Linked DNA regions of Homo sapiens. The protein of the gene in region 7 purifies or fractionates together with the protein of the main gene of each other region. This does not show direct contact. Each region holds a gene or a part of one and is shown on either strand. Other genes may lie near its edges.

Evidence for each region.
Region 1: the proteins of CPNE5 (region 7) and FAM114A2 purify together in Homo sapiens (affinity purification with mass spectrometry; 2 studies listed by BioGRID and IntAct, with this or other methods). This does not show direct contact.
Region 2: the proteins of CPNE5 (region 7) and SNX9 purify together in Homo sapiens (affinity purification with mass spectrometry; 2 studies listed by BioGRID and IntAct, with this or other methods). This does not show direct contact.
Region 3: the proteins of CPNE5 (region 7) and RAD54B purify together in Homo sapiens (affinity purification with mass spectrometry; 2 studies listed by BioGRID and IntAct, with this or other methods). This does not show direct contact.
Region 4: the proteins of CPNE5 (region 7) and WDHD1 purify together in Homo sapiens (affinity purification with mass spectrometry; 2 studies listed by BioGRID and IntAct, with this or other methods). This does not show direct contact.
Region 5: the proteins of CPNE5 (region 7) and SAE1 purify together in Homo sapiens (affinity purification with mass spectrometry; one large-scale study listed by BioGRID and IntAct). This does not show direct contact.
Region 6: the proteins of CPNE5 (region 7) and NAPG purify together in Homo sapiens (affinity purification with mass spectrometry; 2 studies listed by BioGRID and IntAct, with this or other methods). This does not show direct contact.

Annotation. Positions count from the first base shown.
Region 1 is NC_000005.10:154,000,911-154,004,410, reverse strand, and holds part of FAM114A2 (protein FAM114A2), read left to right. Parts: intron 1-1,441; coding exon 1,442-1,564; intron 1,565-2,020; coding exon 2,021-2,160; intron 2,161-3,500.
Region 2 is NC_000006.12:157,899,746-157,903,245, forward strand, and holds part of SNX9 (sorting nexin-9), read left to right. Parts: intron 1-2,152; coding exon 2,153-2,300; intron 2,301-3,500. UniProt on the Homo sapiens protein: Involved in endocytosis and intracellular vesicle trafficking, both during interphase and at the end of mitosis. Required for efficient progress through mitosis and cytokinesis. Required for normal formation of the cleavage furrow at the end of mitosis.
Region 3 is NC_000008.11:94,402,116-94,405,615, reverse strand, and holds part of RAD54B (DNA repair and recombination protein RAD54B), read left to right. Parts: intron 1-1,376; coding exon 1,377-1,539; intron 1,540-3,500. UniProt on the Homo sapiens protein: Involved in DNA repair and mitotic recombination. May play an active role in recombination processes in concert with other members of the RAD52 epistasis group.
Region 4 is NC_000014.9:55,017,100-55,020,599, reverse strand, and holds part of WDHD1 (WD repeat and HMG-box DNA-binding protein 1), read left to right. Parts: intron 1-3,500. UniProt on the Homo sapiens protein: Core replisome component that acts as a replication initiation factor. Binds directly to the CMG complex and functions as a hub to recruit additional proteins to the replication fork.
Region 5 is NC_000019.10:47,137,335-47,140,834, forward strand, and holds part of SAE1 (SUMO-activating enzyme subunit 1), read left to right. Parts: intron 1-3,500. UniProt on the Homo sapiens protein: The heterodimer acts as an E1 ligase for SUMO1, SUMO2, SUMO3, and probably SUMO4. It mediates ATP-dependent activation of SUMO proteins followed by formation of a thioester bond between a SUMO protein and a conserved active site cysteine residue on UBA2/SAE2.
Region 6 is NC_000018.10:10,539,527-10,543,026, forward strand, and holds part of NAPG (gamma-soluble NSF attachment protein), read left to right. Parts: intron 1-235; coding exon 236-345; intron 346-461; coding exon 462-528; intron 529-802; coding exon 803-873; intron 874-3,500. UniProt on the Homo sapiens protein: Required for vesicular transport between the endoplasmic reticulum and the Golgi apparatus.
Region 7 is NC_000006.12:36,742,860-36,745,444, reverse strand, and holds part of CPNE5 (copine-5), read left to right. Parts: coding exon 1-57; intron 58-294; coding exon 295-397; intron 398-918; coding exon of another isoform or gene 919-1,068; exon of another isoform or gene 1,069-1,113; intron 1,114-1,119; coding exon 1,120-1,177; coding exon of another isoform or gene 1,178-1,323; intron 1,324-1,682; coding exon 1,683-1,756; coding exon of another isoform or gene 1,757-2,155; exon of another isoform or gene 2,156-2,194; intron 2,195-2,585. UniProt on the Homo sapiens protein: Probable calcium-dependent phospholipid-binding protein that may play a role in calcium-mediated intracellular processes. Plays a role in dendrite formation by melanocytes.

The DNA.
Region 1 (3,500 bases), on a different chromosome or scaffold from region 7:
CCACTGGCATAGGATGGATGGAGAGGGAATAGGATGAGACGAGTAAAGAGTGAAGGCTAGACCTCCAAATAATATTGGCGTTTAAGAGACTGGCCAGTTAGGATCAATATATAAAAGATACTGAGGAGAAATGGTCATAAAGGTCAGAGGAGAACAGAAGAAAGTTGGGGTTACAAAAACCAAAGAAAACTAGATTCATTATCAGGAGAATGGATAAATTGTGATATATACAATCATGCATTGCTTAATGATGAGGATATGTTATGAGAACTGCATCATTAGGCAGTTTTGTCATTGGGCGAATATCAGAGAGTGTACTTACACAAACCTAGCTGATGTAGCCTGTTACACACCTAGGCTATATCGTTTAACCTATTGCTCCTGTACAAAACTGTACAGCATGTTACAGTACTGAATACTGTAGGCAGTTGCAACACAATGGTATAGAAAAGGTACAGTAAAAATATGGTATTACAGTCTTACAGGACCACCATTATATATGTGGTCTGCTGTTGACCCAAACATCATTATGTGGTGCATGACTGTATATAAAATGAAATACTACACAGCAGTTAATATGAATGAACTAATACATGCAGCAACATGGATAAATCTAACAGACATTATGTTGTGCTTAAGCCAGACACAAATTAGAATGAACTTATATTTCTATTTTTATGCATTTTAAGATTAGGAAAAATTATTTATAGTGAGCAGAAGAGGGTTTGTCTTTGGGCAGGAGGAGGGGGACATGGTTTGAATAGTATTGGCTAGGAAGGGACATGAAGGGACCTTCTAGGGATGAGGAAATATTCTATATCTTGATCACGGTTTCGTAGGCATATACACATAAAAACATTTCTTAAGCCATACTCTGAAGATTTGTGCACTTTATGTAAATTATACCTTGGTTTTTTAAAAAGCTGATTAGAGGCCGGGCGCAGTGGCTCATGCCTGTAATCCCAGCACTTTGGGAGGCTGAGGCAGGGGGATCACCTGAGGTCAGGAGTTCGAGACCAGCTTGGTCAACCTGGCGAAACCCCGTCTCTACTAAAAATACAAAAATTAGCTGGGCGTGGTGGTGGGCGCCTGTAATCCCAGCTACTCGGGAGGCTAAGGCAGGAGAATCGCTTGGACCCAGGAGGCAGAGGTTGCAGTGAGCCAAGATTGTGCCATTGCACTCCAGCCTGGGCAACAAGAGCGAAATTCCATCTCAAAAAAAAAAAAAAAATACTACCAATTAGAGAATTTTGAAAAGGAATGATGGACCACAGTGATAAGTATTGCTGAGACTAGTAGGATAAGGACTGAAAAGCTAGATGGTACGTTCAGGTAAGAACAGGAGCCCTTACTTCTAGGATGCTATTGTGTTCCTGGTAGGTGCACAGTAATTTTGGTAAACTGAATTGAATTGTTGATGGCCAATATTTTTCTTATTTAGGCAAGAAATACCGCCCACGAATGGATCAGGAAGTCTCTGACCAAGCCATTAGCAGAGAATGAAGAAGGAGAAAAACAGTCGGAAGCAGAAAATACTGAGCAAGTCAACAAAAATTCAATAGAGGTAGCCAAAGCAACTAAGCCTTTTTTGTTTGTTTTAGTAGATTTGAAATGTGTCACAATCAGGGACCCAGGCTCCTATTTTTACACTGCTGTCCGTAATTTCAACCTTGTGATCTAGGATTGTAGCATCTTAGATCCAGACTATAAGATTAAAGGAGGAGTGAAGAAAAAAAGAGAGAAAGGATGCGCGTGTGTTTTGTCATGAGGAAGGTTCCCAGAAACTGCTGCCTGACACTTGTTATCTAAATCATTTGGCCAAAACTTAGTTACTTCGTCACACCTGACTTCAGGGGAGCCCAGCTGTAAAATTATATCACTACTGTGGAAGAAGAAGACACTCTTTATTGGAAGGCAACTATTAGTCTCTGCTACAAATCCTGTAGTATGAGAGAAGTAAGGTGGTATCTTTCCACCAAATGTTTTGTTTTGCTATGCTTTGTTTTGTTTTTCCATCCAGGATATCCATGCGTTTGCAATCCGGAGCCTGGCTGAACTGACTGCCTGCTCAATTGAACTATTCCACAAAACAGCTGCATTGGTTCTGCATGGCAGGAAGCAGGAAGTGACAGCCATAGAAAGGAGCCAAACTCTTTCCCAGTAAGTGTAATGAGAATTCCTCTAAATGATGCAAATTGCAGGAGTTTTCTTGGCCTGTTTCCAAAGTTTTATAAACGTCTCTCTCAAGAAACCATTCACGTCACACCCATCCACATATTAGATGGTTTGTTCATTTTGGTTGTTTTTTTCTTTTCATTGAACCATGATAAATCAATATTATAAATATGCCCTTTTTATTAACCAACTCATGCTCTGAAGACTATTTCTTTACAGATAAGTTTTAATAGGAATGGAATTTGGTATAAGTGAAAACAGAGAAGAGTTCTAAGAACCTCAGTTCTTAATAATAGTTATTATTGAGTGCTAATTTTATACCATTCCAAGTGCCATGCTAAGGGATTTGCATGTATAATTTCTAATTTTTATACCTCCAAAAGTAAGTAATTAGTCCAGTTTTAATCATGAGGAAATGCAAACTGGAGGAGTTAAGTAATCTGTCTGTGCTGTATGGCCTGGGATTTAGCCCCAGGTCTGACTGAGTGTCCTGAACCCATTCTTTTTTTCTCATTTTATTGCTGATTTGTACAAAAATTTTTCAAAAATAGTATAGATAATCATAGGTAGGGAAGAAAAAGCCCAGTAGTTTCTAAGCAAATGTCCTGATTAAAATAATGAGAATTTTCATTGGAAACAAATGTATAAGAGTGCCCATTATTAGAACTGGGAGGGGCTGTCAGTCTTCTGCAGACTTCCTCTTTACTTGCACCATCACCATCCCACTACAGCACCCCATAATAGGGGGCTAATTTGTCTTCTTGAACTTCCTTAAGGATGAGAGACTCACAACCCTAAAAGGAGCCTGTTCTGCGGAAAAGAGGCTATTTCTGCTACTTGGAATGTTCTTTGAAATGGGGTTCACTCCCTCTCTGAATTCAAGTCTACTCAAATGCCACCTTTTTAGAAAAGCCTTCCTTCACCACAAAGTCTAAAATAGCAACTTCCACCATTCTCTGTCCTTTTACTCTGCTTTATTGTCTTAGCTTATATCACCAAGTAGGACTTACATGTATATGAATATATATGTGTGTATATGTATACATATGTGTGTATGTGTATATATGTATATGTATATAGTCTCCCCCTTAATTTAGCAAGTAAGTTGAAATCCATGAAAACTGGGACTTTTCTTGTTCACTGATATGTTCCCATTGCTTGAAAGACTTTAAATAAAATCTGGCACACACAAGACTTTAGGTAACTATTATTAAAGATGGACTAATCACTTACTTTTGGAGTTGTTGTAAAAATTAGAAATGATACATGTAAATCCCTTAGCATGGTGCCTGGCATAAAATTAGCACCCAGTAACTAATAACTAA
Region 2 (3,500 bases), about 120 Mb from region 7:
CCTGGCCAACAAAGCGAGGCTCCGTCTCAAAAAAAAAATTATCTATATTTGAGGTATACAGCGTGATGTTGTAATATACATGTATATACTGAAATCATTACTACAGCCAAGCGCTTAACATATCCCTCACCTCACATGATTACCTAAGTGTGTGTGTGTGCGCGTGTATATGTGCAAGTGCGTGCCTGTGGGTGTGTGTGTGGTAAGAGCACCTAAAATCTCCCTCAGCAGGTTTCCCAAATATAATGCAATATCATTAACTGTAGTCCTCATGCTGTACATGAGATCTCTAGACTTATCCTACATGACTGCAACTTTGTACCTTTGACCTGCATCTCCCTAGTTCCCCGTCTCCCTGCCCCTGGTAACCACCTTTCTACTTTCTGCTTCTATAAGTTTTTTAGATTTTTTTAAAGACCTGTTAAAAGTTCCACATGTAAATAAGATCCATGTGGTATTTTTCTTTGTGTGTGATGTTGAGTGCATTTTCATATACCTCTTGGCCATTTTTTGGTCTTCTTTGGAAAAATGTCAATTTGGGTCCTTTGTCCATTTTTTAATTGAGCTTTTTTTATTTGCTATTGAATTGTGCGAGTTCATTATATGTTTTGAATATTAACAGGTTATCAGATACATGGCTCGCAAATATTTTCTCCCAGCCTATTGCGGGATCTGGCCAGCAGCCCGCAATGCAACGGGGTTCTCTTTGTGTTCCCAGGCGGATCGGCCCGTTGAGAAATAATAGACACACACAAGATAGCGAAAGCTGGGTCCGGGGGGGTCACTGCCTTCTGGTCCTGCAGTGCCAACAATGCACTGGATATACCAGCATTTATTATTAAGTTTAGTGAGGGCGGGGGTAGGTTAGTGAGGGATTTAGGGTCATTTGATTATGAGGTGAGATGGTCACATGGGGATGAAGTAATTCTTTAACATAACATCTGTATGCAGAAGTACAGTATACAGAGATAAGAATTTACAATATAGTGTATGCATCAGTAATTTCTGACAGAGCCTTAAAACAGAAACACAGTCTTTCCATAACCTATGATTAGCAAGATATTAATCAGCAGTAACAGTTGCAGCAAAAGCTGGTTACAAACAATCCGTAGAAACAGGACGTGAAGCTAGACAACCTGTTAGACCAGAAATTCTCAGAAGGGAGTATGCCTTAACCCTAAAGAGGCCCAGAAGAGCCCTGGCAAGATGAGGGCGTTTATAGCCCTATCTTATCCATATGGACGGTGCCCCCATGTGTCTGTTTATAGGCTCTTTACAAGGGTCACTTTCCATTCCCAGAGCTATGAATATCTGCTTTTCTGGGATAGGAATCTTGGTGATGTGAAACCTCCCTGACTGCACATCCATTCATAGGCTCTCTGCAGGGGGAAGCACATCACATGCTGTTGGCTCATTCTGGCAGTCCCACCTGGCACTGTCTTTACACAATCCTGCATGCAATTTTGTATTTACAATAATCAGGAGCATTTCATCTTTTATTCCATAGCAATAGTTTCAGGGGGTCTCCCTACACCAGCCCATAGGCTACCTTTTCATTTTGATTGTTTCCTTTGCTGTTCAGAAGCTTTTTAGTTCCATGTAGTCCCGCCTGTTATTTTTGACTTTGTTCCCTGTGCTTTTGGTGTAATACTCAAAAAAACATTTGCCAAGGCCAGCGCCAAGGAGCTTTTCCCCTGTGTTTCCTTCTAGGAGTTGTGTGGTTTCAGGTCTTCCATTTAGGTCTGTAATCTATTTTAAGTTGATTTTTGTGTGTGGTGTAAGACAAGGTCCAGTTTTATTCTTTTGCATGTAGATACCTGGTTTTCCCAGCACGACTTACTAAAGAGACTGCCCTTTCTCCACTGTGTCATCTCGGTGCCCGTGTCAAAAATTTAAAAGTAATCTGATAGCCCTCTTTAAGTTGCTTCTGATTTGTCTTTTGCACTAAAAGAATCTGTAATTCAAGGCTTAAAATTGACTACACAGCCTTTACTCTTAACATCCATATTATACTCCTATACTATACCCTTTTCTCCATCAAAAAAAAATTGATTTGCCCAGTAGGTAGTTACTGTCAGAAAATTAAGTAATTTCATTTTTATTTTGGTCTTTTTTTTTTTTTTAACTGATGATCTTCCATTTTCACCTCTAGCAACTGGTGATGATGATGACTGGGATGAAGACTGGGATGGGCCCAAATCCTCTTCCTACTTTAAGGATTCAGAGTCAGCTGATGCAGGCGGCGCTCAGCGAGGAAACAGTCGTGCTAGTTCCTCATCCATGAAAATTCCCCTTAACAAGTAAGTTTAAAGGGGAGCCAGGGAACCAGGGCCGTGGTAGAAGTATACATTAATACAAAGTATATACCCTACCAAGAGGCAGCTGGCCTTTTCCCTTTCCAGTGATCTCCTAAGTTTTGGATATGATTCAGTTATTTTTATTTGGATCTTAACTGAGAAGCTTACTTAAAAAAAAAAAAGGATTTTTGATTTACAAGGTTAATAAGTGAAATATTTATTTTATTTAATGATTTCCCAAACTGTTTTCATTACTTCTAGCTTTATCAATTTATGACATATTAAGGTTTCATTGCTAATGTCACAGGAAAGCTAAAAAGAATAATAATAACAACTCTCTTTTAAATGTTTTACTGTTTTGTTAATCACTTGCCATGTGCCAGGCATTGTGCAGAGAGGTTTGTATCATTCGCATGTAGCCCTCATATCCCTTTGTGGTACATAAAACCCCTGTTTTACTGCAGGCAAACTGATGCCCAGAGAGACGCATCGAGTGTTCCAGTCAGGAAGCCAGGCCCTCAGGCGCCAAAGCACGTGTTTCAGCTCCTGTGCCTAAAAACGTGGTCCGGAGCTTTGTGTTAGCTTAGGTTTCTCTTAGATTTAAAACAAAAAAAAAAGTGTTGTGTTTTATTTTTTTGTTTTGAGACAGGCGTCTCGCTCTGTCACCCAGGCTGAAGTGCAGTGGTGCGATCTTGGTTCACTGCAACCCCAACGTCCCGGGTTCAAGCAATTCTCGTGCCTCAGCCACCTGAGTAGCTGGGATTACAAACATGTGCCACCGCGCCCAGCTAATTTTTGTATTTTTAGTAGAGACGAGGTTTTACCACGTTGGCCAGGCTGGTCTCAAGCTCCTGGTCTCAAGTGATCCGCCCGCCTCTACCTCCCAAAGTGCTGGGATTACAGGCTTGAGCCACCACACCTAGCCAAAAAAAAAAAGTTTTTAACAGTACTTGTAGATACCCTACTTAACAGGAAAGCATGTGGGCACCAGTGACCACTGTAGGATTCTTTGGAGAGACCTAAATAAGGCTGTAGTCTATGCCAGTGTAGCTTGAAGGAGATATATTAGTAATTTATGACTTCCATCAGAATTTTCAAGTACTCCTTCCAGCAGTTATGTTTAGTTTATTTTTTGAAATTACTAATACTTTTTCCCAATATTCCAATTCCATGATTCAAGGCAGATATCAAAGAATGTTAATC
Region 3 (3,500 bases), on a different chromosome or scaffold from region 7:
GAAAGCCAAGGACTACATTTCCCATTTTTACTTCCTAGTCTCCTACCTAACAGGAATTGACCTCAAAGATGAAAGTTCATTTCAGTTACTCAGAAACCTAGGAAGATCCAGAGAAAACTTACCCTCTGGGTATTTGTTAATGGTAAACATGACTAAACTCTTATTCCTGTGACAGTATAGTTCCACACTGATGAATATTTACATAGTCTACTGGAGTCTATTTCTTTTTATCTCCTCTTCTCATCTCCTCATTCTTTTTTCTTTTTTTATCTAATTCAATTTTTATAAACATGATGTAGGCATGCAAATATATCCCCAAAATAATTTTGGTGGGTTTATTATCTAATTTCAGATTTATCAATTGAGACCTGCCTTCTAGTTATATTTGATTTTGCCTTTTTGGGTGATATTTTAGTAAATCTTTTAAATTGTGTTAGCATAGTTTTGAAGAATTACATTGTTATTCTATGATGACTTCATGCTGCTTTAAAGAGGTTCATGAGGCTGGGTGCAGTGGCTCATGCCTTTAATCCCAGCACTTTGGGAGGCTGAGGTGGGCAGATCACTTGAGGTCAGGAGTTCGTGACCAGCCTGGCTAACATGGTGAAACCTTGCCTCTGTTAAAAATACAAAAATTAGCCGGGTGTGGTGGCGCGAACCTGTAATCCCAGGTACTTGGGAGGCTGAGGCACGAGAATTGCTTGAACCTGGGAGGCGGAGGTTGCAGTGAGCTGAGATCACACCACTGCACTCCACCCTGGGCAACAGAGTGATACTCTGTCCCCAGAAAAAAAAGCTTTATGAACTTGACATTCATGAATGTAGTAATTAACTTCAAGCAAATAATGGTGGCTAAGTCAATGGAGAATTTATCATTTTTTCTCAGTTCTAATTAATAGGAGTAATGATCATTGTTAGTGTGTTTAGGACTGAAAAGATAGAAAGCCTGTATGTTAAATTTGGGGAGACTTTTCAGAATGAGAAGCTGTGAACATTGGCAAATGCATCTTGGCAAAATTCCAACCTGTACTTTCAGTTGGAAATAGTTCTCTTTGCTCTGAATACTGAACTATTCAATGTTGTGGCTTATTGAATTCCTTACTAGACAATAGTGAATTTCATTGCTTTCGAAGCACTTTTGGGTATATGAAGTTTGGAAGGCTCTTCGTAATTCTTTGCATGAAATCGTTCATCAGTAAGGCATGAGATTTTCTTTTTAAATTTTGTGCCCTTGGGTAACATTACTGTGACTAAATTTTGGACTTTTTTGGCCACAAATGATGGCAAACATTTCTATCTTAGGGTAATGAAAACAAGATAATGTTGGTTGCTGAAAAAGTGAAATTACAATACTTGTACTTTTATCATTTTTTAAGATTCCCTCGTTATGCCACGACCAGATAAGAATCACCAGTGGGTATTCAATAAGAACTGTTTCCCTCTTGTGGATGTAGTGATTGATCCTTACCTTGTATATCATCTTCGACCACATCAGAAAGAAGGAATCATATTCCTTTATGAATGTGTAATGGGAATGAGGTAGGAAAATAAATCATTTGTTTAATCTAATCTGAATTTTGATTTAACCTGTAACACAATAATGGTTTTCTAAGAAGATCCTAATATAATGAGTCCTGAGGGTACACTATGAATTTCAATTGGTAGGAAAGGTGAATAGTGCTTACTGTGTGCATTTATTCCAAAAGTGGTTCTTGATAGATGCCACGTGCCAAACATACTGCTAGGAGGTGGGCATATGGGAATCAGGACCACGGTCCTTACTTTTAAGTGGCTTTTAAAGTATTTGAGTAAACAGATAAATGCAATTGACCTTAATGTGGTATAATAAAAGCTTACCGACTGCTAGTGTGGTAAAGGGTCATAAGAGCAAGTGAAAGAGGCTTTTAATTCTGGTTATAAGAATTTTTTTTTTTTTTTGGAGACGGAGTCTTACTATGTTGCCCAGACTGGAGTGCAATGGCGTTATCTTGGCTCACTGCAATCTCCATCTCCCAAGTTCAAGTGATTCTTGCATCTCAGCCTCCTGAGTAGCTAGGATTACAGGCGTGCTCCACCATGCCTGGCTAATTTTTGTATTTTTAGTAGAGACGGGGTTTCACCATGTTGGCCAGGCTGGTCTTGAACTCTTGACCTCAAGAGATCCACCCACCTCAGCCTCCCAAAGTGCTAGGATTACAGGCATGAGCCACTGCACCTGGTTATGAGAATTTTGGAAAAAGATTTTCTTCTGTCTCTACATCTGAAAATAGAAAAAAGTTTCTTCTTCCTTTTTGCATTTTCTGATTAAAGAATAGTAGTATCTTAAAGATATTTTAGAGGACACAAAAAAACAGGAGAAAAAAAGAATCAAAGGCCCCTGCTAACATTTCTTCCAGTCTTTTTTGTTTATTTGTTTTGGTTTTGTTTTGCCTTGTTTTTAAATGCCAAGACCCTTGATTTTAAAATTTGTCCTTTAAAGGTAGTTGGAAATGAAATTCTCCCCAACTCTAAGAACTCCTTGAATGATGACAAGTTAAGGGAATACTGTCTTCCAGAAACTGTTAACTAGACTCATATTTCCTCCCAAATCTGCTTTTTCTTTCGAAGGTCTTATCTCAGTTGGTCTGTGAATCATCTTTGATTTCTTCTCTCTCACATTCTGAATCTAGTCAAACCTGAACTTTTAATTATTTTAACCTCCTAAATATTGTTTCCTAATCTTTTCTGTCATTCCACTGCAGCATCTCTAGTAACCGATGTCATAAAAATATCATATTTTATCTAGACTATTGCAATGGCTTCTAACCTGTATATTTGCTTCTGATGCTTCTCAAATAATGTATTCTACTTAAAGCCACCATCTTGAGTTTTCTGAAAAACAGTTCTGAACATGGCATTCCCTTATTTAAAATCATTCAGAGACTCTCAGAACTTAGAACAGTGTTTCCCAAACTGTGATCCCTACTCCACTGGCAGTATATGGGACCATTTTGAGGTGGCAAGTGGACAAGCCTTTAAAAAAATTTGAATAGTAGCATATTTAGTTAATTATTGGAAAAATAGGCTGGGCATGGTGGCTTACACCTGTAATCCCAGCATTTTCGGAGGCCAAGGCAGGCGGATCACTTGAGGTCAGGAGTTCAAGACTAGCCTGGCTAACATGGTGAAATCCCGTCTCTACTAAAAATACAAAAATTAGCTGGGTGTGGTGGCAGGCACCTATAATCCTAGCTACTCAGGAGGCTGAGGCAGGAGAATCACTTGAATCCAGGAGGCGGAGGTTGCAGTGAGCCAAGATAGCGCCACTGCACTCCAGCCTGGATGACAGAGCAAGACTCCGTCTGGAGAGGAAAAAAAAAAAAAAGAAAAATAGCACATTAAACTTTTGGTTTCACAGATAAATTATGCTTAGAAAGAGTTTTCTTTTCAAATTTAAGTTAAAATGATTTGAAGAAAAATCATAAATAACATATAGTATCACAGATATGACAACAAATCGT
Region 4 (3,500 bases), on a different chromosome or scaffold from region 7:
CATAATATTTATTACTGTGAACTTGGATGAAGTCACCTAGGGAAGGAGTAAATATAGGTAAGAAAAGAGGTTCAAGGATACTCCAAAATATTTAGAGATCAAGTTAAAGAGGATCCAGCTAAGGAGACTAAGAAAGAGTAGCTAGAAAAGTAGAGAACTGAAAGACAAGAAGGATGTTTAGAAGCCAAATGAAGTGTTTGAGGAACAGGAAATAATAGACTCTGTCAAATGCTCCTGGTGAGTCAGGTTGAAGACTGAGAATTCACCATTAGATTTAGCAATGTGGAGGCCATTGGCAAGTTTTATGGAATGGTAAGAATGAAAACCTTGAAGTGGATTCAAGATAATGGAAGGGGAGGAATTTGAATTAGTGAGGTTGACACTACGTGGTTTTGATTTTGTCTCTAGTACCAGTGGGGTATAGAAAGTAATCAGTCACTACTTAAGAGGGCTGAAGAGGAAGCAGTGACCCCAGAAGAATGACCAGAAAGAAAGCTGAGTATATAGAGATTTTGCTTGTGCCTCACCATGAACCTCATGAGACTCAATGATTAAGAGTCAAGAAGAGGTGGTCAGATTAGGGAAGGAATGTTGCTCTCTGAGGATAGAGTTGAGGTAGTAAGAAATGCGTTGGTAATCATTGACTCCTTGAGGTTATGTCATAAAGCTGATGAAGTCTTGATATAATTAATCTTCATGCCCAGACACTGATAGCGGATTTCTTTTTTGTTGAGATGGAGTCTAGCTCTGTCGCCCAGGCTGGAGTGCAGTGGCACGATCTCGGCTCACTGTAACCTCTGCCTCCTGGGTTCAAGTGATTCTCTCTCCTCAGCCTCCCAAGTAGCTGGGATCACAGATGCCCTCCGCAACAGCTGGCTAATTTTTGTATTTTTAGTAGAGACAAGGTTTCGTCATGTTGGCCAGGCTAGTCTTGAACTCCTGACCTCAATTGATCCACCAGCCTTGGCCTCCCAAAGTGCTGGGGTTACAGGCATGAGCCACCACACCCCGCCTTACTCTTTATTATTTTAAAGTAAATCCCATACATCTTATAACTAAAATCTGGTTTATTGGGGGTAGAACCTAGTAGAACAATGCTTTAGCAAGAGTCATGAATCAAAAAAGAGAAGGCACAAATAAAATAATATTAGAGATAAAAAAGGTACAATATAGGCTTCAAAATACGTGAATACATTGACACCCTTATGCCAATAGTTTTGAAAATTTGAAACAAAGGTATAATTTTCTAGGAATATGTAAATTAACAACTTACCCAGTTTACCTAAGAAAAAAATAAAAATATTTATTTACATTGATTATCCAAACATTAAACATATGATCTAAATGTTAACATATGTAAGATAATCATTTCTGGTACATATTTATGTGCTTTAATCAGTTTCTTAGCCTGTCTGTCCCATGGTATTGCTGATATTTTTCTGAAAAATATATTTTTAATACAGTGTTATTTTAATTTTTCTCATAAAAAATTAGCTGTAGCCTTGTTTAGAGTTGCATTTTATGCTGAATAAATTTGAAGTTAAATCTTCAATTCTTTTCTTTTTTTTATTTGTTTGAGTCAGAGTTTCACTCTTGTTGCCCAGGCTGGAGTGCAATGGCACCATCTCGGCCCACTGTAACCTCTGCCTCCCAGGTTCAAGCAATTCTCCTGCCTCAGCCTCCCAAGTAGCTGGGATTACAGGCATGCGCCACCATGCCTGGATAATTTAGTATTTTTAGTAGAGATGGGGTTTCTCCATTGTTGGTCAGGCTGGTCTCGCCTCCCAAAGTGCTGGGATTACAGGCGTGAGCCACCATGCCTGGCCTAGACTATAATATTTTTTAATGAGAAAAATGTTAGGTTCTAAGGTACTTGGCAGGCTCAGAGCAAATTCTACTAGCTGGGAGAGTCATAATTTTTAAGAATTTGTTTTAATTGAAATGGGTAAATACTTCAGCCTCAGTATTTTTATAGGTTCTGTCTTTTTATCTCCATTCAGGGTACACTTCTTCAATAATAGGGTCTTCACTGTTTTTAAGGACAAAATTCATCAAGTTGTCTATGATTCTTTTGGATGTTTCACAGATTTTAAGCCTACTCTTTTATTTCATTCTGGCACAGAACATAAATTAATACAATTAAAAATAGGAGTTCTATCAAAATATTCTTCCCACAAGTCAAGATATTCCAAAGTACAGTTACAGAATTTTAAAATGAAATCATTCACCATTTCAGCTTTTCATGTACAATTTGTTCAATTCTTATTTGCTTTTGTAGGGATAAATTTCAGTGTCTTCCTGTGCATAAGTTTTGTTTTCATGAATTGCATTTCACTAAAAGCTTCAAAAGCTTAAGTTTAATGCTTTGATTAAAGATGTCTGTTTTCAACTAAATGCAACTAAGATTTAGAGGACTTGTTTCTAATAATAATAATACCATTATTACAGTAGGACACTTAGGTTGTTTTACAGAGTCGCTCGCTCTTCAAAGGCTTAAAGATTTTAAAAACCCAATCACTCCAAGCAGAGGGAGAAAGTATGTCCTGCAATGCTAGTATTTTTTGTGTATTTAATTAACATCGGTTTGTGCGCTGCTGAGGTGGGAGGATTGCTTGAGGCCAGGAGGTCTAGTAGTTTTTCTGTATATCACATTGATTTGTGTGCAGCTGAGGTGGGAGGATTGCTTGAGCCCAGGTCAAGCCTGCAGTGAGCCGTGGTAGGGCCACTGCACTCCAGCCTGGGCAACAAAAACAGAAACAAAACATGTTTTTTTCAAAAATTCTGTTGTTCAGCAATTCTAGATATAAATAAAATCTGAAAATTTGACAAGTATGGCTTCTTTTTTGTTGGTGTGTTATCTTGCAGCTCATTTGGATAGAATCATGAATTGTAATTCCAAATTCAAGTACTTTTGTGTTTCACAGATTTCCTAATATAGTAAGAACATTGATTTTTCTGGCTGGGTGCAGTGGCTTACGTCTGTAATTCCAGCACTTTGGAAAGCTGAGGTAGGTGTATCACTTGAGGTCAAGAGTTCGAGACCAGGCTGGCCAACATGGTGAAACCCCATCTCTATGAAAATACGAAATTTAGCCAGGTGTGGGTGGTGCGTGCCTGTAATACTAGCTACTTGGGAGGCTGAGGCAGGAGAATCACTTGAACCTGGGAAGTGGAGGTTGCAGTGACCCGAGATGGTGCCACTGCACTCCAGCCTGAGCAACAGAGCAAGGCCCTGTTTCAAAAAGAAAAAAAAAGAATATTGATTTTTCCTACAGCACTGTAGAAAACAATAAAATTAATATGTAGTTATTTGATACAATAAAGGATAAAACCATTTAGAAGAATGTTTAGACTACTCTAAAAGCACTTCTTTCGCAGGACTGCTGAACGCTATTTCCTGCCAAAGTTTGTATTTGTATTACTGTAAAAATTAAGAATTTTATCATTAGTGTTAAACTTTTCAAATAAATTTAGATAGAATCCCCACTGATGTCAGATAT
Region 5 (3,500 bases), on a different chromosome or scaffold from region 7:
CCAAGGTCACACTATCGCACTCCAGCCTGGGTGACAAGAGCGAAACTCTGTCTCAAAAATAAATAAATAAAATAAAATAAAGTAAAGAAGCAGCTTCCTAGAGCAGATTTGGTTGCTTAAATTGAGGCCAAGTTTCTGGAGTTTTTATTGATAGTTGACAATTACAACTAAAATTTTTTTTTCTCGCTCTGTTACCCAGGCTGGAGTGCAGTGACGCAGTGACGTGATCTTCAGCTCACTGCAACCTCCACCTCCCGGGTTCAAGGGATTCTCCCGCCTCAGCCCCCAAGTAGCTGGGACCACAGGCGTATGCCATATCACTCAGCTAATTTTGTGTGTGCATGGCGTATGCCGTAACACTCAGCTGATTGTGTGTGTGTGTGTGTGTGTGTGTTGTTTTTTTTTTTTTTTTGTGATGGACTCTCACTCTGTCGCCCAGGCTGGAGTGCAGTGGCACAATCTTGGCTCACTGCAACCTCCGCCTCCTGAGTTCAAGCGATTCTCCTGCCTTAGCCTCTGGAGTAGCTCGGATTACAGGCGCGTGCCACCACACCTGGCTGATTTTTATATTTTTAGTAGAGACGGGGTTTTACCATGTTGGCCAGGCTGGTCTCAAACTCCTCACTTCAAGTGATCTGCCCACCTCGGCCTCCCAAAGTGCTGGGATTACAGGCGTGAGCCACTACACCCGGCCTATGTGTGTGTATTTTATTTTTTTATTTTTTTGAGACGGAATTTCTCTCTTGTTGCCCAGGCTGGAGTGCAATGGCGTGATCTAGACTCACTGCAACCTCTGCCTCCCGGGTTCAGGCAATTCTCCTGCCTCAGCCTCCTAAGTAGCTGGGATTACAGGCGCCTGCTACCGCGCCCAGCTAATGTTTGTATTTTTAGTAGAGACCAGGTTTCGCCATGTTGGCCAGGGTGGTCTTGAACTCCTGACCTCAGGTGATCTACCCGCCTCAGCCTCCTTAAGTGCTGGGATTACAGGCATGAGCCACTGCGCCTGGCCAGAAGTTACCTTCTTTGTGCCTGTTTTCTCAGCTGCAAAAGAGGGGTAACAAAGTGCCAGCCCATTAGATTGTCATGGGAATTAAATGACATAATACATACAAAGAGCTTAGTAGAACAGTGCTTGGCACATAGTAAGTGTTAGATAAATGTTGGCCATTATTATTTTATTATGTACCAGATTTCTATAATTCTGCTGATGGACACAGGTTTGTTTTGGTGTGTCTATTAATTCACAGCCATTTGAGTAACAGTATGTCCTAAATGCCAAGGAAGTTACTGGTTCTAGTGATACAGTGGTTTCTGGAGTTTACATTCTAATGGAGGAGGGGGCAGTAAACATATAAACAAGTAGTGTAGCTTAGCACAGTGGTGTGTGGCTGTGATCCCAGCTACTGGGGAGGCTGAGGTTGGAGGATCACTTGAGCCAGGCAATTGAGACTAGCTTGGGCAACTTAGTGAGGCCCCATTTCAATCAAAACAGTGGGCAACACAGACCCCATCTTAATCAAAACAAAAACAAGTAGCATAATTCGAGATAGAAGAGGATGTGGACCTATTTTAAATTAGGTGGCCAGTATGGACTTCTCTAAGGAGGTGACAATTGAGCTGAGACCTAAAGAATGTGTCCCTTAAGAAGTTGAGGGAAGAAGCAATGGGAAGCACTAATGCCAAGGTCCTAAGGTGGGAGCAAGGATGGGAGCAAGGATGATGTTCTCTAGGATCAGCCTCCCGAGTAGCTGGGACTACAGGCACGTGCCACCACGCCTGGCTAATTTTTGTATTTTGAGTAGAGATGGAGTTTCACCATATTGGCCAGGCTGGTCTCGAACTCCTGACCTCAAGTGATCCGACCGCCTCGGCTAATTTTGTGTATTTTTAGTAGAGACGGGGTTTCACCGTGTTAGCCACGATGGTCTCCATCTCCTGAACTCATGGTCCTCCCACCTTGGCCTCCCAAAGTGCTGGGATTACAGGCGTGAGTCGCCGCGCCTGGCACACCCAGCTAATTTTTTTTTGTTTTGTACAGATGGAGTCTTACTTTGTTGCCCAGGCTGGTTTCGAACTCATGGGCTCAAGTGATCCTCATGCCTTGCCCTCCTAAAGTGCTGGGATTACAGGTGTGACCCACTGCGTCCAGCCTGCTGTAGTTTTGTCGGAGAGAAACGATGGTGGCTCAGACTAGAGTGGTGTTTGTGGAACTTGAGGGAAGTAGATGGACAATGCTGCTGTGAATGTGTATCTTTTTTTTTTTTTTTTTTTGAGACAGAGTCTCACTCTTGTCACCCAGGCTGGAGTGCAGTGGCGCGATCTCGGCTCACTGCAAGCTACACCTTCCGGGTTCACACCATTCTCCTGTCTCAGCCTCCCGAGTAGCTGGGACTACAGGCACCCGCCACCACTCCCGGCCAATTTTTTTTTTTTTTTTTTTGTATTTTTAGTAGAAACGGGGTTTTACCATGTTAGCCAGGATGATCTCAATCTCCTGACCTCGTGATCTGCCCGCCTTGGCCTCCCAAAGTGTTGGGATTATAGGCGTGAGGCACCGTGCCCTGCTGAATGTGTATCATTTTTGTGCCCACTTGGGTATTTCTTTTTTTTTTTTTTTTTTTGAGACGGAGTCTCGCTCTTTCGTCCAGGCTGAAGTGCAATGGTGCGGTCTCGGCTCACTGCAACCTCCGCCTCCCGGGTTCAAGCGATTCTCCTGCCTCAGCTTCCCGAGTAGCTGAGATTACAGGCGCCTGCCACCACTCCCGGCTAATTTTTTTTTTTTTTCTTTTTGAAACAGACCCTTGTTCTGTTGCCCAGGATGGAATGCAGTGGCGCCATCTCGGCTCACTGCAAACTCCACCTCCCGGGTTCACGCCATTCTCTTGCCTTAGCCTCCCGAGTAGCTGGGACTACAGGCGCCCGCCACCATGCCCAGCTAATTTTTTATATTTTTAGTAGAGATAGGGTTTCACCTTGTTAGCCAGGATGGTCTCGGTCTTCTGACCTCGTGATCTGCCTGTCTCGGCCTCCCAAAGTGCTGGGATTACAGGTGTGAGCCACCGTGCCCAGCCCACGCCCGGCTAATTTTTGTAATTTTAGTAGAGATGGGGTTTCACCATGTTGGCCAGGCTGGTCTCGAACTCCTGACTTCAGGTGATCTACCCACCTTGGCCTCCCAAAGTGATGGGATTTGTAAACCCAGCACTTTGAGGGAGGCAGAGGCAGGAAGATTGCTTGAGCCCAGGAGCTGGAGATGAGCCTGGGCAACATAGTGAGACCCTGTGTCTACAAAAAAAAAAAAAAACCCATAAATCAGCCAGGTGCAGTGGTGTGCACCTATAGTCCCAGGACTCAATAGGCCGAGGTGGCGGGATCACTTGAACCTGGGAGGTTGAGGCTGCAGCGAGCCCTGATCTTGCCACTGCCCTTCAATCTGGGTTCACAGAATGAGACCCTGTTTCAATAAAACAAAACGTAAACATGGTATTTGGTGTTGATGG
Region 6 (3,500 bases), on a different chromosome or scaffold from region 7:
GGGGAGGGAGAGCACTAGGACAAATACCTAATGCATGCGGGGCTTAAAACCTAGATGATGGGTTGATAGGTATAGCAAACCACCATGGGACATGTATACCTATGTAACAAACCTGCACATTCTGCACATGTGTCCCAGAACTTAAAATAAAAAATAATTGCATTTCAGATTGTTAACTCTGTTTTTCTTTAATTGATGCATTTGCTGACCTGTCTACTGTATCCTTTGCCCAAAGGAGATGCAGAAACTACCAGAGGCCGTTCAGCTAATTGAGAAGGCCAGCATGATGTATCTAGAAAACGGCACCCCAGACACAGCAGCCATGGCTTTGGAGCGAGCTGGAAAGTGAGTGTGAGATGGACAAGTCTCTGCATAGAAGTCTTGTCTTTTTGTTTTAAAGAGGTCCCTGAAAAACAAGTTTTCCATTTCTCATATAAGACATGTTTTCTTGTCTGATTCAGGCTTATAGAAAATGTTGATCCAGAGAAGGCTGTACAGTTATATCAACAGACAGCTAATGTGTTTGAAGTAAGTTTGAATCTTATTTTTTTCTTTAATTACTTAGAATGTTTAGATTAATAATATATAGGAAAATAGAGAAGTGCAGTGGCTACTTTTAAAACTTTTCCCTGCTCACAGTTGCACGCTATTTCTTTTCTGTTAGAGAGTAGTGAAATGAACTAGCAGCTTTCGTGTTCCCCCCTTGATCCAGTGCCATTACTTCTTTACAAAATAAATATTAGGGGATAAAAACATTTCAACATTAAAGCAGCCAACACTTGTTTTTCTTTGATTCCTTCAGAATGAAGAACGCTTACGACAGGCAGTTGAATTACTAGGAAAAGCCTCCAGACTACTAGTACGAGGACGTAGGTATGTCTTTAAAAACTATTGCTGTGTGTTTAACTATACTTTGAATCCACATTTGGAACTGGAAAGTAATTTGGGGGATAGCTTGTTAATTTTTTGGTATAAGCTGTAGACACACCAGGCCACACAATAGAATATTAACATTTACTAGACAGTAGGCACACTGAATTAGATATTAAAAGATCTGCTGTTTTTTGAAAGTGTAATGCCCAAATTTATCATGCACTGTGCTTTTATTGGTTGAACCCTGGCTCAGCAACATGAAAGGGAACAGTTTCCTTCATCTGTTACTTGGTTGGATTATAATATCTCTCTCAAGGAAAAATAAGAATATTAGGATAAATGACAAAGATGCATAAACACTCACCCATGAAAACTGACAGGTTCTTGACAAATAGTGTCATTATTAGAATATTTACCTTGTTATCGTTTCACATATGACCTGAAGCACAAATAGTTGAACCTCAGAAAGCTAAAATCCTATTGGGATTTCCTTTTGTTTTTTTACTTTATCTCAGTTTACTTTTAGTAAACAATTTTTTTCATTAATAAAATTCTGTCTCAATAATATTTAAGATAAACATCTCTAGGAGATTGTAAGTCTGCAGATATCTTAATTGAAATTTGTCCAAAGCTTCCCAGTAACAGAAAACACCCAAGATCCATTTAATATGTCAAGGAATCAAAATAGAAATGACTGATGAATCTATCCTATCTGAGACTGAATTAAATTTTTTCTTCATGAAGACTGCAGATTCTGAAATACAATTTAAACCGGTCTAGAGTAATATGAGAATAAATTAATCTAGAATTAACTATTAAACAATCTCATTTAGATTAATTTGTTTATAGGACCTTCCTTCACTGAGGAGTATTTTTTTGTCTAAATGGAATAGAAATTTCATTTTGTTTTTAAATTAGGACTTTAATCATGAAGGAAAGTTTAATTTAAATGTCAGTCCGGGGTCATTATCTTTATTCATCTTATTACTTACTCGTCGCTTCCCAGAAATCAGTGAATGAAATGCTAACTCTGACAAATCCCAACTTAAAAATGGTTCACTTTAGTTTCTGAAAGTGTTTGTTACAGCAGCAGAGCTGTTCTTGGTGATGGCGTTATGGCTGTGGCAAAATAGCTGAACTGTGAGGTGATACCAAGGTTCTGACTTGTGAGCAGGGGCCCCATGTCTTAGAAACAGTGTCCTTCATTCTTTTCAGGGCAGCTAGGAGGCAAGTTTTAGCATAGTTTACCTCCTTTCTCTTCTGTTCTCATCTCCTGATGCTCCCCGACAAGACTCCCAGTGCCTTTCTAGAGCGCTAAGCCCCTTACTATAAGACCCCATGGAAGGTGAAGGAAGTGAAGTTGCAGGAAGGGGCAGAAGTTAAGGACAGCCCTGTGTGAAAGTCCAGACTGCATCAGCTCCCCTGAAGTATTTCTGCTTTCCACATCTTCTTTCCTTTTGTTTCTCAAGGTATAGATTATCTAAAGCTGTGTTGTAGAGGGAGTAGCAGGAAAGGAGAGAGGCCAGGATCTTTTCGGGGGAGGTCAGATGAGGAACGTTTTCCAGCTGCCTGTGCATATTCCTTTAGAAAGCTCCACTAGGGATGGGGGCCACCATCATCCTCAAAACATTACCAGTGTTGCCAGTCGGTTTGGACACATCTGATGAAAGCCATTGTTTTAAAGCAATTACTGTGTTAAATTCTTCAAAGCCTCAGCAGAGGGGAGAATGCTAGTTGAGTGAGCAGCAGAAGTGAGAATGCTGCGTAGATGTGCTCAAAGGGCACATTTATAAATCCAGGGCTTTTATTCGTGACTTTGTTTTATTGGTTTTTTTTTTTTCTTTTTAGGAAAAATGTATTTTAAAATGGTACTTTCTACTGTGCTCAACAAAAATGTTATGGAAATATATTTTTGAAGTGTATTAACAATATAAAAATTAATTTAAATTTGTGCAGGAACATGAAGGAATTTGATCTTTTGAAAAGTGTTGCTGGGTATCTTGGTATGAAAAAATTAAGTCTACTGTCATGGTACTTCTATTGGGAACTTAAATAGTGCAGGATAAGAAAAAACATGCAGTGTTTATAGTGATGGAGACATTATTGAGATGATTTATGTGATAATTGAAAATATTAACTATGTGCTTAGATTATTATTTGATTGCATCTGTTGCCTAAAAGAACTAAACAGGTGGTAATTTTATGCTTCACACAAGCAACATCTACTAATAGACTGTGTGGCATGGAGTCTAAAGTTTTATGTTTGTTATATTTAGTTAGTGCACTTATGTTTTTACATTAACATGAGTCCATAAGATGTCCTAATTTAATACTTTCTATGTTAGTGTAGCAAAGAATCTATTTAATATATTAATCTCTTGCTTCTCCTTCAGTTTTGGAGAGTCAAAATTCAGAAGTGATTCGTAGTTTCATTTAGATTACATCTGGGAAAAGTCAGTCCAAGGCCAGTGCCCTTGTTCCTTTTTAGAAAAGGCCTTTCCAGGCTGGGTGCAGTGGCTCATGCCTGTAATCACAACACTTTGGGAGGCTGAGGCAGGCAGATCACCTGAGGTCAGAAGTTCAAGATTAGCCTTGGCCAAATGGTGAAACTCCTTCTCTACTAAAAA
Region 7 (2,585 bases):
CACTGTGCAGCTGTACGGCCCCACCAACTTTGCCCCCGTGGTCACCCACGTGGCCAGGTGAGTGCCGCTGCCACCGCCTCCAGGCACTCACAAGGCCTCTGTTTCCACACCAGCTCTGCCTCTGGGTGGTGGGAGGGGGTTTCTCTTCCCACGCACTTGCCTTTCAGGGAGCCCTGACCCTGAAGAGATTCCCCCAAGAGCTGTCACCCTCCAAAGTGTTCAGGGTCCTTGTTTAGGGGGGAACATGCCCAGAGGTCCCGCAGACAGACCTGAGCCCACACCTGCCCCACCCAGGAATGCAGCGGCCGTGCAGGATGGCTCCCAGTACTCGGTGCTGCTCATCATTACTGATGGGGTCATCTCGGACATGGCGCAGACCAAGGAGGCCATTGTCAACGTAAGCAAGGAGTGTGCGGTGGGGGAGGCGGTTTGAGGAGTGTCTTCCTCCCCGTTAGGGGAACCCTGGGGATGTGCCTACCTCCTTGACCTTAGGGAAATGCTTGGAGATGACTTGGGCGTGGCTTCTCATTTCCCTGCCTCACTGGGCCCCACTGCCCTCATCCACCTTCTGGCCTCTGGCTGCAGAGTCCGGTGCTGGATAGTGGATTCTAGCGGGTGGAAGGGGTGCCCAGATCATGAGAGATCTGGCTGGTGAGCTCTGTTCCCACCTCTTAGTCACGCTCTGGTCTACTCCCTCCAGACCCCAATGACTCCCTCATTAACCCATCTCTAGGACCGCTTCCCCCTTTCCCAGGCCAGCCTGGCCAGGTCAAAGGAGTGGGAGGGGAGGCTCAGAGTTGGGGAAGCTCAGGAACATGGCTCCCCAAGCCGGTGGTCTCCCTGTAAGAGGGGATGGGGGTGACTCACCAAAGCAGACCTATGACCCATTCCCCCTGCCACCCTCCCTCTCTCCTCCAGGCGCAGCCTGGTTTCCTTTGCTCTTTATCTCTGAGTGCCCTCCCTCTCCCTACCCCCTTTTCTGTGTTTCTCTGTCTCTCCATGTTCACTCTCCCATTTCTTTCCTGCCCACCCCTTCCTGTCCTACCCCTGATTTCTCCTTCCTTTTAACTGGGTCCCAATTGGGTCCAACCTTTCCCTGCCCCCCATGCTGTCTCCCAGGCTGCCAAGCTCCCCATGTCCATCATTATCGTCGGCGTGGGCCAGGCAGAGTTCGACGGTGAGTCCAGCTGCTGCCTTCCCCTCCTTTCCTTCCCTAGCCACGCAACCCTGCCCCCACCCCAGATGTTTCCCCAGAGGCTGTGGTCCCCTGGGAATGACCCCTCCCAAAAGAGTGAGAGCTCCCGCCTGGGCGTGTGTGTCTGGGTGAGTGTGCAGGGTGTGGGACGCATTTGTTTGCTCAGGGAAGGGTGTGTCAGGTCTGGGTGTGCACCCACACCCACATCCCAAGGCTGTGGGGAGGAGGCCCCAAGTCACTTCTTTCTCCTCCAGCCCTGGGAGTCTGGGGAGGGTGGTGAACCAAAGCACTGGGCTCAAAGTCAGAGGCTCACCTGATCGGGCTCCTCCTGGCCCCTGGCCTCAGTTTCCTCATCTCTAACACGGGGCATGGGCCAGTGGTCTCGGCCCTGGATTGGCCTGGGATGAAAGGACAAGTCCACTCTCCTGCTAGGGCCAGGGGTCCACCGTTAATCTCACCCCGCCCCATGACACTCCTCCCCTCACAGCCATGGTGGAGCTGGATGGCGACGACGTGCGGATCTCCTCCCGGGGGAAGCTGGCTGAACGCGACATCGTCCAGGTGAAGCCCAGGCCTTGCCTGCCCCATGGGAAATTCAAGAGCCCCTCTAGCCAGGCGGACCTCACACCCCCTTTGGGGGCTTCCCTGGTGAAGGGCCCAGAAGGGAGGCACTGGGAGCCCCAAAGTGGCCCAGCCACCACCGAAGGGAGTAGGAGTCAGTCCTCGGCCATGCTGTGGTCTGGGCTGGGCCCCCCTCTGTCACATCTGGGACACACTCCTAACATTGCGGGTGCCCAGCCAGAGGCCAGAACCCTCTGCCAGCCCTTCCTCAGCCTCCAGGCCTCTGTGGTCAGCCTCGTTCTGGTTTTTTTCTGCCCCTTGAAGGCTGAGGCAGTGTCTTTAGTGTTGCTGCAGCCTTCTCCAAGAATAGGCATTGCTCGGTTAACTGAATCAATGTAAGCATCTCCATGAACGGTGCAAATATAATGAGCAGAAAGACCTTTGTCCTCAGGGAATTCCCATGCAGTCTCACGTGGAAGAATGCACCCTCCGCAAGCACTTCCCCCACTCATCCCCTGCAGAGGAGGCCCTAGTGCTTAGGAGATGCAGAAGACAAAGCTGACATCCTGCATACCCCCTTGGTTTAAAAATTGGGGCCCAGTATCCCAGGTGTGGAGACCAAACATAGGGGGCTGGAAACCAGAGCAAGACAACCTGGGAGGTGGGACCGGCCCATGCTAAGGCCTGGAGGCAGGAGTGAGCCAGAAGAGGCGCTCAGGATGGAGGGCACCCCCGGGAAGAAGCCAGATGGGCCTGGCATTAGGCATTGGCCAGATTAGCCCCAGAGAGAAAAGGAACGAAGAGAGGCCAGAGAGAGAGGGCTCTGCTG